Linked DNA regions of Homo sapiens: region 2 is linked to region 1. The links come from fine-mapping of genetic effects on gene expression. A gene starts in region 1. The other region holds a variant in brackets. All regions are shown on one strand. Distances are between the middles of the regions.

Region 1 (5,377 bases):
CCTGGCACTTTGGGAGGTCGAGGGAGGAGGATCACTTAAGCTCAGGAGTTTGAGACTAGCCTGGGCAACACGGTGAGACCTAGGTCTCTACGAAAACAAAAAATGAAAAACCGCAAAATAATAATAGAACAATAAATTCTATACTTCTAAGAACAGATATTGGAGCTCAATCATTTTAACTCAACTGCCAATGAAATTTTATCATCACCCTCCAGGTACCAACACAGAGGCAAGTCTGCCTGGCTTTTCACCCTGAAATCTTTAAGCATAATCAACTAGTAGAAGGAATGAAAATCTAGAAGTAGACAAGGAAAGAAGTTTCCACCAGGAGGCCACTCTGGCAAATGAAGGAGGAAAGGTGGCAAAGACCAGCATCTACAACCCATGCCAACAGCGCAGGATGATGCAAATTAACATGATGTAGGATCTCTCCAGTGTGGAACACTGTAAAAAGCCAGCTGTGATTTACTAGCCCTTAGTAGGGTGTCTGGCCACACTTCCTAATTTCCAAGAAGATGAAGAAGTTTTCAGAGCACAAAGACATTCCCTAGGAAATTTCACAGTGATTGTTAATTCCATTCCTGCAACATCTTATTTGCCAGGGCAACTTTCCAGTTAATAAAAATGTTAAACCTATGGAAGAGGGAGGAGAAGAAACCTAGATTTTAGGGTAGCTACTTCTGTGTGGGTCTAGACTCTCAACACCATTGATAAGGTGTTGAGATAATTCTTGTGGCCCACTCAAAGGAGAGAGGTTGGACTAGATGACCCATGGTTTCTCCTGAGGAGTTTTCTGGTGATAGTTTTAGATTGGGATTCTTAATCTGATTGCTGGGAAAGGCATAGTGGGAGTCATTCTCTGGATCAGATGGTGCTCTCTTTTGATGTCAGACGTCCTCTACAGGTGGAATTGGGCAAAATCATAGCAGGATAAAAATAACACATATACCTTTCCTTTGTGGCACAGCAAAAGTCTCTTTCACAATATCATCTATCCGTCCGTCCGTCCGTCCGTCCATCCATCCATCCATCCATCCATCCATCCATCCATCCATCTATCCATCCATCCACCCATCCACCCAACAAGCACTACCTGACCACCTACTGAAGGCCAATCACCATGCTTGATGATGGGACTAAAAGTCAAAGATGACCTTATTCCCTTCCCTGAAATTACACTACCACCTTAGTCTGCAGCTAAGGCAATGGAGTTACAGGTACTGCTCAGATCCCACAGCCATTCAGGGGCAAAGTTTTGCCTAGGAGCCAGGTCTTTCAATACCTGCCCCTTGCAATCCCACAACACCAAACCTGTGGCTACAGTGCCTGCCACAATCAGATGGAAAGAGATGGGCAGTAGGAAGATTTTAAACAAATGAGGTGTTATCTCTTTTTGCTTGCCTGACTCTTTTATTTTTCTCTTCTGAATCTAAAGATTTTTCACCAAAGATCTAAAATAGTGAGAGCTGTAAACCATAGGCAAGACATGCAAATGTCAATATCGGATACGCCAGTGTGATCTCATTGGTAGGGTTAGCCTTGCACAGCCTGTAAAACTGCCTCCTTAGAAATCAAAACCCACTGCCCAGATTTCCAGGTCTTGGACCACTCTACGCTTAAGATTAAAGAACAAATGTTTCAGATACGTTATAAGTGGCAAACAATGCAATATTACCCTTAACTTTTTTTTTTTTAACATTTGTTACCTCACTGTCTTATTTAAAGGTAGTTTCTCAACTTTTGTCACTAGGATTCCACAGAACTTCTCCGTTACTCAAACTCTTCTCCCCCTTGTTTTATTTTTCCACTCTGGGCAGACATTTTTGTCTGCATTGTGGAAATTGATGAATTATTTATCAACAAATACCTCATCCAAATTTGGGGATGTGCCTCTCCAAAAAATCAAAAATAGTACAAAGAATTGAAAAAAAAATCAAAGCAGCACCTTAAACAATGAGAATGAAGCATTCATTGGCTGCTCAATAATCTGGTACATTAAGGTTGCGGTCCAGAAGTCCCTTTAATTAACAATGGTTCTGCCAAAATGCTACCCTGAGACACTTGACCAGACTGGCTTTCCAAGGCAAGAAGATCTGAGGCGAGGAGAACCGAAAACAAAGCGGGCTCAAAAAGAGTTAAGCTCCTTCCTTACTTAATGCCACTGCTTTTCTGAGAGGCCAGGTGGCAGGATGTGGGACGACTCCAGCTGACAAAGACAGTCTAACCGTGGGGTAGGGGCTGGAGCAGGGGCCAGCGACCCACGTCTACATGCATACTTCTCTTACACTGCTGCTACTGGAAAAGCTGAACCCCGCGCCAGGACCCCAGCCCCCTGCAAGGACCCGTGAGCGTCTGGGAAGCTGTCTCTGGGACTGAAGCCCCCCACCTCCGCCGGGCTGGCGGCCACTGCGGTACCCTACGCCCCGTCGGGCTGGTCCTGCACAATTTGGGAAAAAGCCGCAGCGCTTCTGCAAGGTCTACGTGGCCATGAGCATGCAACGCTTGGCTCCAAAAAAGACACGAAAGGAGCAAAGCGCCAACGACCACCCGATCGGAGGGCCCGAGGGGCGCCTCTTCACCAGTCAGCTGCAGCTTAAGTTCCGTGCATTATCTGAAAGGAACAGCTGGCTGGAGGTATCCAGGGCTGTCACTCCAACCTCTGCAGCAGTGACCTCAACTCCCAGCACTTCAAAACCCAGACAGAAACGTCCAACAAACTCCCAGTCCAGGAGCGCTGCAAAACCAACGCCAGGTAGACGGTGCCAGCCCGGGGGTCGCTGCCCAACATGCACCCGCAGCCCTTGACTGCGGTGAGCCCGAGGCAGACGGCACGGGGAGGCGCGGCGGTTACCTCTCCGGGAGGCGCGGCGGTTACCTCTCCGGGAGGCGCGGCGGTTACCTCTCCGGGCCCCGCGATCCTTTCGCAAAGTCCCAAGTCCTGGTCAAGGCAGGAGCGCGCCGCAGGCGGGGGTCGGGGCAGGGACCGGGCGGAGGCGACGCTCCATGGACGCCTGGGGTCGGGCTCGCTCGCTGGCAGGGTCGGCTGGGGGTGTGATCTCTCTTGGCGGCCGCTCTCACCGCTCCGCCCCCGCGGGCTCCAAGCTCGCTTGGCCCGCCACGAAGACTGCAGACTGCGCAGTCTGCTTTGCCCCGTTTCAGTTGTATGCGGGTTGTAGGCCCGGGGATTTCCACGGGACTTTCCAAAGTCACGTGACTCTCTGGGTCGGGCTGCGAAGTGCGTCCAGCCGGCCGCCAGAGGGCGCAGGGGGCGAGGGGCGCGCGCGGCCTCCGCCCGACCGGGCCTGCGGGCCCCGCCCCGCCCCCTTTCCCTGCCCCGCCCCGCTGCCCCGCCCCGCCCGGTCCCTGCAGGCGCCCGGAGAAACTCCCTCGCCCCGCCCCGGGGTGTCCCCGCGTGAGTCACCTGGGCATTTCGGAAGCTGGGGTCACGTCACATCCATGTGGAAATCGCGGTGATGGGAACTGGAAATGAAATAGGTTCTTTTTCGCAGTTGTTTTTCTGCAGAAAATCATCAACTGTGGAGAAGAAGAAGGGAAATAAGAAAGAAAGAAAACCCTAAAAACCACCCTGGCGCCCGGGCCCGCAGGCCTCGGGCCGGCTCTGAAAAGTTTGGGCTGTGCACGTGATGAGCGCGTAGGCGGGAGCCCCAGACAGGACCCGGGCGGGCATTTCGAGAAAAAGCAGCGGTGACAGCCTTTGGTCCCCATCTCCATTGTTCCTGCCAGCTCTGGACCCCAGGCTGCATGAGACGTAGGTCCCAGGGGACACCCGACCCCGTGGCCCCAGTCTTAGGTAAACTTAGGAATCAGAACAACACTCACCCCTATGCCGCGCTTGCTCCATTTCCCCTTGTCTATTTCTGCTCACCAAGCATCCAGCTGACATTGCATTCAAAGCAGCATTTCAGCTTAGAAATCGCTTCTAGTCCATCACGGTGCTTGCCATGTGTCTCCAAGGCTTTATTAGGTGTGTTTTTAGTTGTCCTGATAATCAGTTCACCCCAGGGTGCTGATGGCTGATAATACTGGCGCTTCCCTCCCTACCCCCATGCGTTGCACAGGGAGGGTGAGTCATGTGGAGATGGATGCAGCCCCCTGGGCAGTGGGGGTGCAGGTGCTGTGCAGGGAGGAGTCTTAGGGCGTTTTTACTGTCTTACTGCCCTCTAAGCACGGGACCCTTTGGATCATTTACTAGATTGGCTAAACTAGAACCGGATGGAAATATTCTGTACTATGGTCCCCTTAATTACATTTAAGAATACTTGTCAGGCCATATATCACAGGTTTTTAATTAGAAAAGTATCCTCCTCTCGCCAGTAAGGACTTGCAGAGATGGGGGTGGGGGCTGGATGGAGGGTGGCACTTTTTTGGCAAAAAGAAGTTTGGAGCAGAGTGTCACTAGTGGCCTCTCTGAAGACTGGTCCTCGTCTTTTAAAACCGATGGCTGGAATTTCTTCCAGTTCCAAACCTCTTGTTATTTGTCCTCTCTTCTTGTTCACAAATGTGCTATCAACATTCAAACAATGGATAGTCAGCTATCCATTGTAAATGGACCTTGCTGGAGTCCAGGGCTAGCAGAAATGACAGGGTCTAAAATGACATTTATCAAGTACTTGCTATATGCTTATATATGCTTTTTATATGAAGGTTAAGAAGCTTGAGGCATTTGCCCAGTTTCCACAACCAAAAGGGGCAGAGTCGCCAGTGGCATTAAGCCTGTGTTACTCCAAAGCCCATAATGACCAGTCTTACTAGACCATTCCTCTCAGGAAAGATCCTGTGAGACAGGTACTCTTTTGGTGTCCTGTCTCCCAGCCTCTCAAAACAGCCAAACACGGACCTTAGACAGAATGCGGCTTCAGAGGTAGAAGGGTCTTGGTTTCACCTTCAGGAAACCTCCTGGGTTTCAGTTGAGCTGGCAGAAGAAGATCATGTATCTGAAAGACCCTGCATGGAATGTTAATCCTCACACCACTCTCCTGCTGGTGCTCCTTTGTAAACAGAGTTGGCCTGTTTCCTCTCATCTCTGGCTCCATGACTTCAATCCTCCTGCAGCTTCCACTGCCCCTATCTGGCTCATGTCTTGCTGTCTGGTGTCATGAACTGGGAGTGCAGTAAAGAGGAGTGACAAGCCTGAGGGGCCACGTTCATACCTGCCACTGCCAACTGTCCTGATGTAACTGCTTTGTCATCTTGCCTGCCAGGATTTGTGACAAGGTAATAGCAGTCAGATGCAGGAGTGGTCTATAGCCCTGGATTATGTTCGAACTCCACTTTCCATGATTCTACTGCTGGGCTTGTGAATTGCCACTCCCACCACCAGGCGGTCTTTACTGTCCTTTCCACCTTCTAAATCAGC
Region 2 (5,377 bases), 42 kb after region 1:
ATTCATGAAATGCAGCAGAGTTGAGAACCACTGGCTTAATAGATGGGCACTGAGGAGAACTCTTTTTATACATTGAGGCCAAACATGTTAGACAACCACGAACACGGCAGTTCTTAAACTTCAGCTGCATCAGAATCACCTAGGCTTGTTCAGACAGATCACTGGGCTCCACCCCCAGAGTTTCTGATTTAGTAGGCCTGTGATAAAGCCAAGAATTTGCATTTTTAACAAGTTCCAGGTGATGCTGACACTGCTGATCTGGGGGACCACACTTTGAGAACCACTGCTTTAACAATAGGAATTTACTTTTGACCTTAAAAACAACTCCCTAACATTGGCAAGCGATTGATAGTGTGCACCCTTGATGATATGATATAATGAGAATGGCACTTTGCCTCTGTGGTCTCCCTCCCATTAAATGCATTAACTCAGTCTAATCATGAGTAAAACATCAGACAAAACCCAATGGAAGGACATTCTACAACATACCTGACCAGTAATCCTCAAAACTATCAAGGTCAGCAAAGCCAAGGAAAGTCTAAGAAACTGCCACAGCTAAGAGGAGCCTAAGGAGACATGACTACTAAATACAATGTGGTATCCTGCATGGAATCCTGGAATAGAAAAAGCACATTAGGGGCAGGGCACGGTGACTCACACCTGTAATCCCAGCACTTTAGGAGGCTGAGGCAAGCAGATCACTTGAGGTAAGGAGTTTGAAACCAGCCTGGCCAAGATGGTGAAACCCCATCTCTGCTAAAAATACGAAAATTAGCTGGGTGTATTGGCGGGCGCCTGTGATCCCAGCTACTTGGGAGGCTGAGGCAGAAGAATCACTTAAACCCAGGAGGTGGAGGCTGCAGTGAGCCGAGATCGTGCCACTGCACTCCAGCCTGGGCAACAGAGTGAGACTCCATCTCAAAAAAGAAAAAGGAAAAAAGACATTAGGGAAAAGCTGAGGAAATAATGTATCAATACTGATTCATTGGTCATGACAAAGGTACCATATTAATGTAATATGTTAACAATAGGGGAAACTCAGTATTAGGTAGGGAGCGCTCTGTACCATTACTGCACTAATTACATTACTGCACTAATTACATTAATTCTGTAATTTTAAAACCATTCTAAGATAAGCAGTTTATTTGAAAAAAAAAAAAAAAAAAAAAAAAAAAAAAGAACTTCCTGACTGCTGAAATACAGACCGTTCCTGATTGTGGTTATGGAGGAGGTGTCTTCAAAAGCATCAAGGAAAAAATATCAAATAATTGTATTTGTTTGACTGAAGACTTATCTGGATACAGGAGGTGAGTTACATAACATACCTTTATCTCTTTTTCTATGTGCTTGTGTGACTCAGATGATTGTGTGACTTTGAAATAATTTTTAAGGGCTATACTTTATATATACATATAGCATATAGATATTATACATAATACAAATATAATATACATATGTATATCAGCATACTTACAGCTGGTATGAAAGATAAGGTAGCTAGCTGATGCCTCTCAGTTTATTAGGATGCAGCCATGCAGTGGGAATACAATTTTAATTAGAAAAGGTACCTGCTGTAATGACTTAATATTCTTGGTAGAAATTTTCAACCTTTTGATTAGGCCTATCTGGAAACCATCACAATGGTGGTCTTTCTTTCTCTCTCTTCTTTTGTTTTGCAGTTCCAAGAGAACCTGCTTCAGGTGGTCTAAATGAAATAGAGTCCAAGTCCCATGCTTACGTAATATTTAGCTGCTGGTTTATAGTTATGGATGACCTTATTTCATTGGCTTCAAGAGTGCATTTCATAAAATTCCTCACTTATTGATTCAGGTTTTTTTGTTTTGTTTTGTTTTGTTTTGTTTTGTTTTTGAGACGAAGTCTTGCTCTGTCGCCCAGGCTGGGGTGCAGTGGCACAATCTCGGCTCACTGCAAGCTCCGCCTCCCGGGTTCACGCCATTCTCCTGCCTCAGCCTCCCGAGTAGCTGGGACTACAGGCACCTGCCACCATGCGGGGCTAATTTTTTGTATTTTTAGTAGAGACCGGGTTTCACCATGTTAGCCAGGATGGTCTCAATCTCCTGTCCTTGTGATCCGCCCGCCTTGGGCTCCCAAAGTGCTGGGATTACAGGCATGAGCCACCGTGCCTGGCCTGATTCAAGTTTGAATATATCCGTGGAGCACTGTGTGCTCACGGCAGATGAGGGTAGAGGTGAGAAGACCCAACAACTCTTTGGATATCCACGTGTTAACCAGCCAGGCATTTACATTGTTTCCCTAACTTGGCTTCAGTTCCCCTCAGCCTTTTGAGTGTTGGTC[G/A]CTGATCGTGGTTATGGAGGAGGTGTCTTCAAAAGCATCAAGGAAAAAATATCAAATATTTTGATATTTGATATCAAATATCAAAATTTGCCATGGTGCCCAGCATGGTTCAAGATCATAAGTGTCAAGCACATCAGGTAAGGAAGATAATAATAATTCAAGGGCAAATGAATTGCCCCATGGACAGTGAATTACAGTATGCTACAATGGATTTGTTTGGACCATTTATCTTTTCTTTTGAATTGACTTAACTGTACATTTGTAGGAGATAAGCAGGAAATCAGAAGCACTCCTAGGGATTGGCACTGGTCTAAATGACAGCCCTAAGGAGGAGCTTAGATACCAGATTCATCCTCCATCCAGGCAGAAGCTCCCCAGGGATAAAACTGCAAGGTTAAATGTGAAACTCAAAATTTGAAGCAAAAGCCTCTCCTCTTCTGCACTTCTTTTCTTCCTAAGTTGAGCAGTAATACTAGAAACAGAGTCAATTGAACCTGAATAGCTCCTCTGGGGTACCAGGCATCATTCTAAGGAACTCGTTTCATCCTCACAGAGGCACAGATGGGGTATGTAACTTGCCAAAGCTCACACTGCTTGGAGTAGAGTCAGGATTCTAATCTGGCTTGTCTGGCTCCAGAGCCCACGTTCTAAACCATTAGGCTCATTCTGCCTCTCTTGGAGAAGACACAAGAAGTCCCAGTCTTGGCTAGCCTGGCTAGTTCCAGAGACCTCCATAGCTAAACAAGGTGTAGAAATAGAATGTCCCGTCACTTAGCTATACTTCTATCCTTCCCACCTTCTACACAACTACCATTACCATTGCCACCAGCAACTGGTAAATATTGATGGAGCTTCTTTTCTTTGCCAGGCACCATAGATACAAAAACTAAAAAAAAAAAAAAAGAGACTGTAATCTTGACCTCAGGAACTACAGAGGAGATAGACATCCAAGCAAATATGCCAACAAAATCCCAAGTGGGGTCTAGTAAGGGCCAAAAAAAAAAAAAAAAAAAAAAAAAAAAAAGAGCTGGTGTAGCCAGATGGGCAGGGACTCACCTTGCTTCAGGGACAAATTTGCAGTGGTGATGAATTCCTTTCATTCTTAGCTTTCCTCCTATTACTTCCCTGATTTATTTTACTTACAAATGACACGTCTAAATGGCAGAGACCTGAAGTTCTCTTGATGGGGTGCTGAGATGTTCAGAAGGGAGGTATCCTGTTTAACCAACAGATCATTTATAGATAAAGAGAGGCTCTAACTTAGCATACAGTTCATCTATTTCCTTCCCCCAAGAAAGAAGGGATATTTACATCTCCTCTATTCCTTCTTCCAGGGCAAGAATCTTCTGTTCCATATGCAACATCTTCTGGCAGCCTTGTCCTTTTTCTGTCCTTGACGACTACAATAACAAACAGCTGTTGCCGAGGCATTGCTGTTGACGTGTTACCTTTGAAACCTCCCTCCTGTTATGGAATAAGCCTCTTCCAGATCATGGCTCATTATCATCTAGTCTGACAAGCAGCCTTGTTGCCACGGAGACCCAAAGGGATCAGGCGTGGCATTTGCCTGCATCATCACCCCCTCCAGGGGAACTATAAGGACTCTTCTGTGCGTCATGCGTGGCTGTCCTGGGACTGGCTGCCACCAGACTTTTCCTGCGGGTAAAACCTAAACAAATGATCAGCTGCAGATAATATCAAGACCTCTGTTTGATATGTTAATAGTGACAGCCAGATTTCCACAATTAACAACGAGGTGGGAAGAAAACACTGTAGTCACCAGACTTGGGAGGAGAGGGTTTGTATTCACATAAACACAACCTCACGTCACTGCTTGCCACCACAAAGGGCTCTGTTCACTGTTTTGTTCTCAAAGATCATCCTTGCGCTCATCCTCTGATCTTGAATTTCTACATAACTTTCTCAGTTTATATGCCCTGTGGCAAGTGCAGCAAGCACTGTTTCCTGTTTCTAAACTTGTAGAAAATCATCCATACATCTTACAGTTGTCAGTTTTAACCAGATAACAGTGGCACTTTGTTGCTGCTTTTTTATCTTTAGCTTAGGTTAACAGGACCCTGGAAGTAAAGTTGTTGATTTATTCAATAGAGTATTCTCAATTAATTTGGCTAGATTTCTACATGATTCAAAATCTAAAAAAGTAGAAATGCATGCTTACATGTCTAAGGCCTGAAAAATTGGTAGTGACATCCCAAAATAAATGAAGGTTTTAAAACAATAAATGATCTCTTTTTTTTTTTTTGCTTCTGTGCTTGGGGAGAAGCAATGAAGGAAACAACAATGTTGCTTTAAGGAGTGAGGACCCCAAAAATAAGAATATATAATTATGACAGATAGGGCATAGGGCGTTGTTCAGAATTGATGGGGCTGGTGCACACACAAACATTTTAATAGTTCTAATACTTTGTGTACACTCTTGCGATGAAGTGATGACTTCATTAATTGATTGAATAATATTTATGCAATGCTACTATGTGCTAGCTATAGAACTAAGCTTAGTCTCTTAAGATCTTAACATTCTGAAACTATTAAAATGTATAATCACCATTTGTAAAAGTAAATATACTAATCTAATAATTTGGAATGTACATTACAGTAAAAAAAAAGCAGGGGAACATCCTGTAAAATGTCACTCAGAGATAACCACCACTTACAGAGTGAAGTATATTCCTGCTTTTTGCGGATAGTGTGTGCGTATATATGTTTAAGCAAAGCTAACAATATACTATTTTTATAATTGGCATTTACTTTTTCTTTTGCTTAACTTTATATCATAACCTCTTTCCCACATCATTACAAACTCTTCATAAATAATCTTACAAATGGTTATGTAATATTTATCTTATTTGTAACACATACTATCTTCTTTTTTTCATCAACACACTGCATGGATAACAGATTTATTTTTTAAGTCAAAAATCTTTCTTGGCTACACTAACCAATGTTTTTGGTTTTTGTTTTGTTTTGTTTTGTTTTGAGACAGAGTCTCACTCTGTCTCCCAGGCTGGAGTGCAGTGGTGTGACCTCGGCTCACTGCAAC

The links. PIP is the estimated chance that this variant, and not a neighbour inherited with it, causes the effect.
Region 2: its variant is the best candidate, but not a certain one, in a credible set for the expression of WAKMAR2 in sun-exposed skin (GTEx, PIP 0.62).

Annotation. Positions count from the first base shown.
Region 1 is chr6:137,865,017-137,870,393 of GRCh38, reverse strand. It overlaps WAKMAR2 (wound and keratinocyte migration associated lncRNA 2), which reads left to right and starts at 2,161. Exons shown (of 4, transcript NR_049793.1): 1 at 2,161-2,752; 2 at 3,510-3,811; 3 at 5,074-5,235. TNFAIP3 (TNF alpha induced protein 3) reads right to left here and starts at 3,135. Exons shown (of 9, transcript NM_001270508.2): 1 at 2,852-3,135. RefSeq lists silencers at 2,589-2,688, 2,829-2,998, 3,239-3,378 and an enhancer at 3,459-3,598.
Region 2 is chr6:137,822,851-137,828,227 of GRCh38, reverse strand. It overlaps WAKMAR2 (wound and keratinocyte migration associated lncRNA 2), which reads left to right. Exons shown (of 4, transcript NR_049793.1): 4 at 3,651-4,559. Among named protein-coding and RNA genes, the nearest start is that of TNFAIP3, 42 kb to the left of the region's middle. RefSeq lists enhancers at 27-76, 97-226. The variant G/A (reference allele first, on the strand shown) is at 2,317.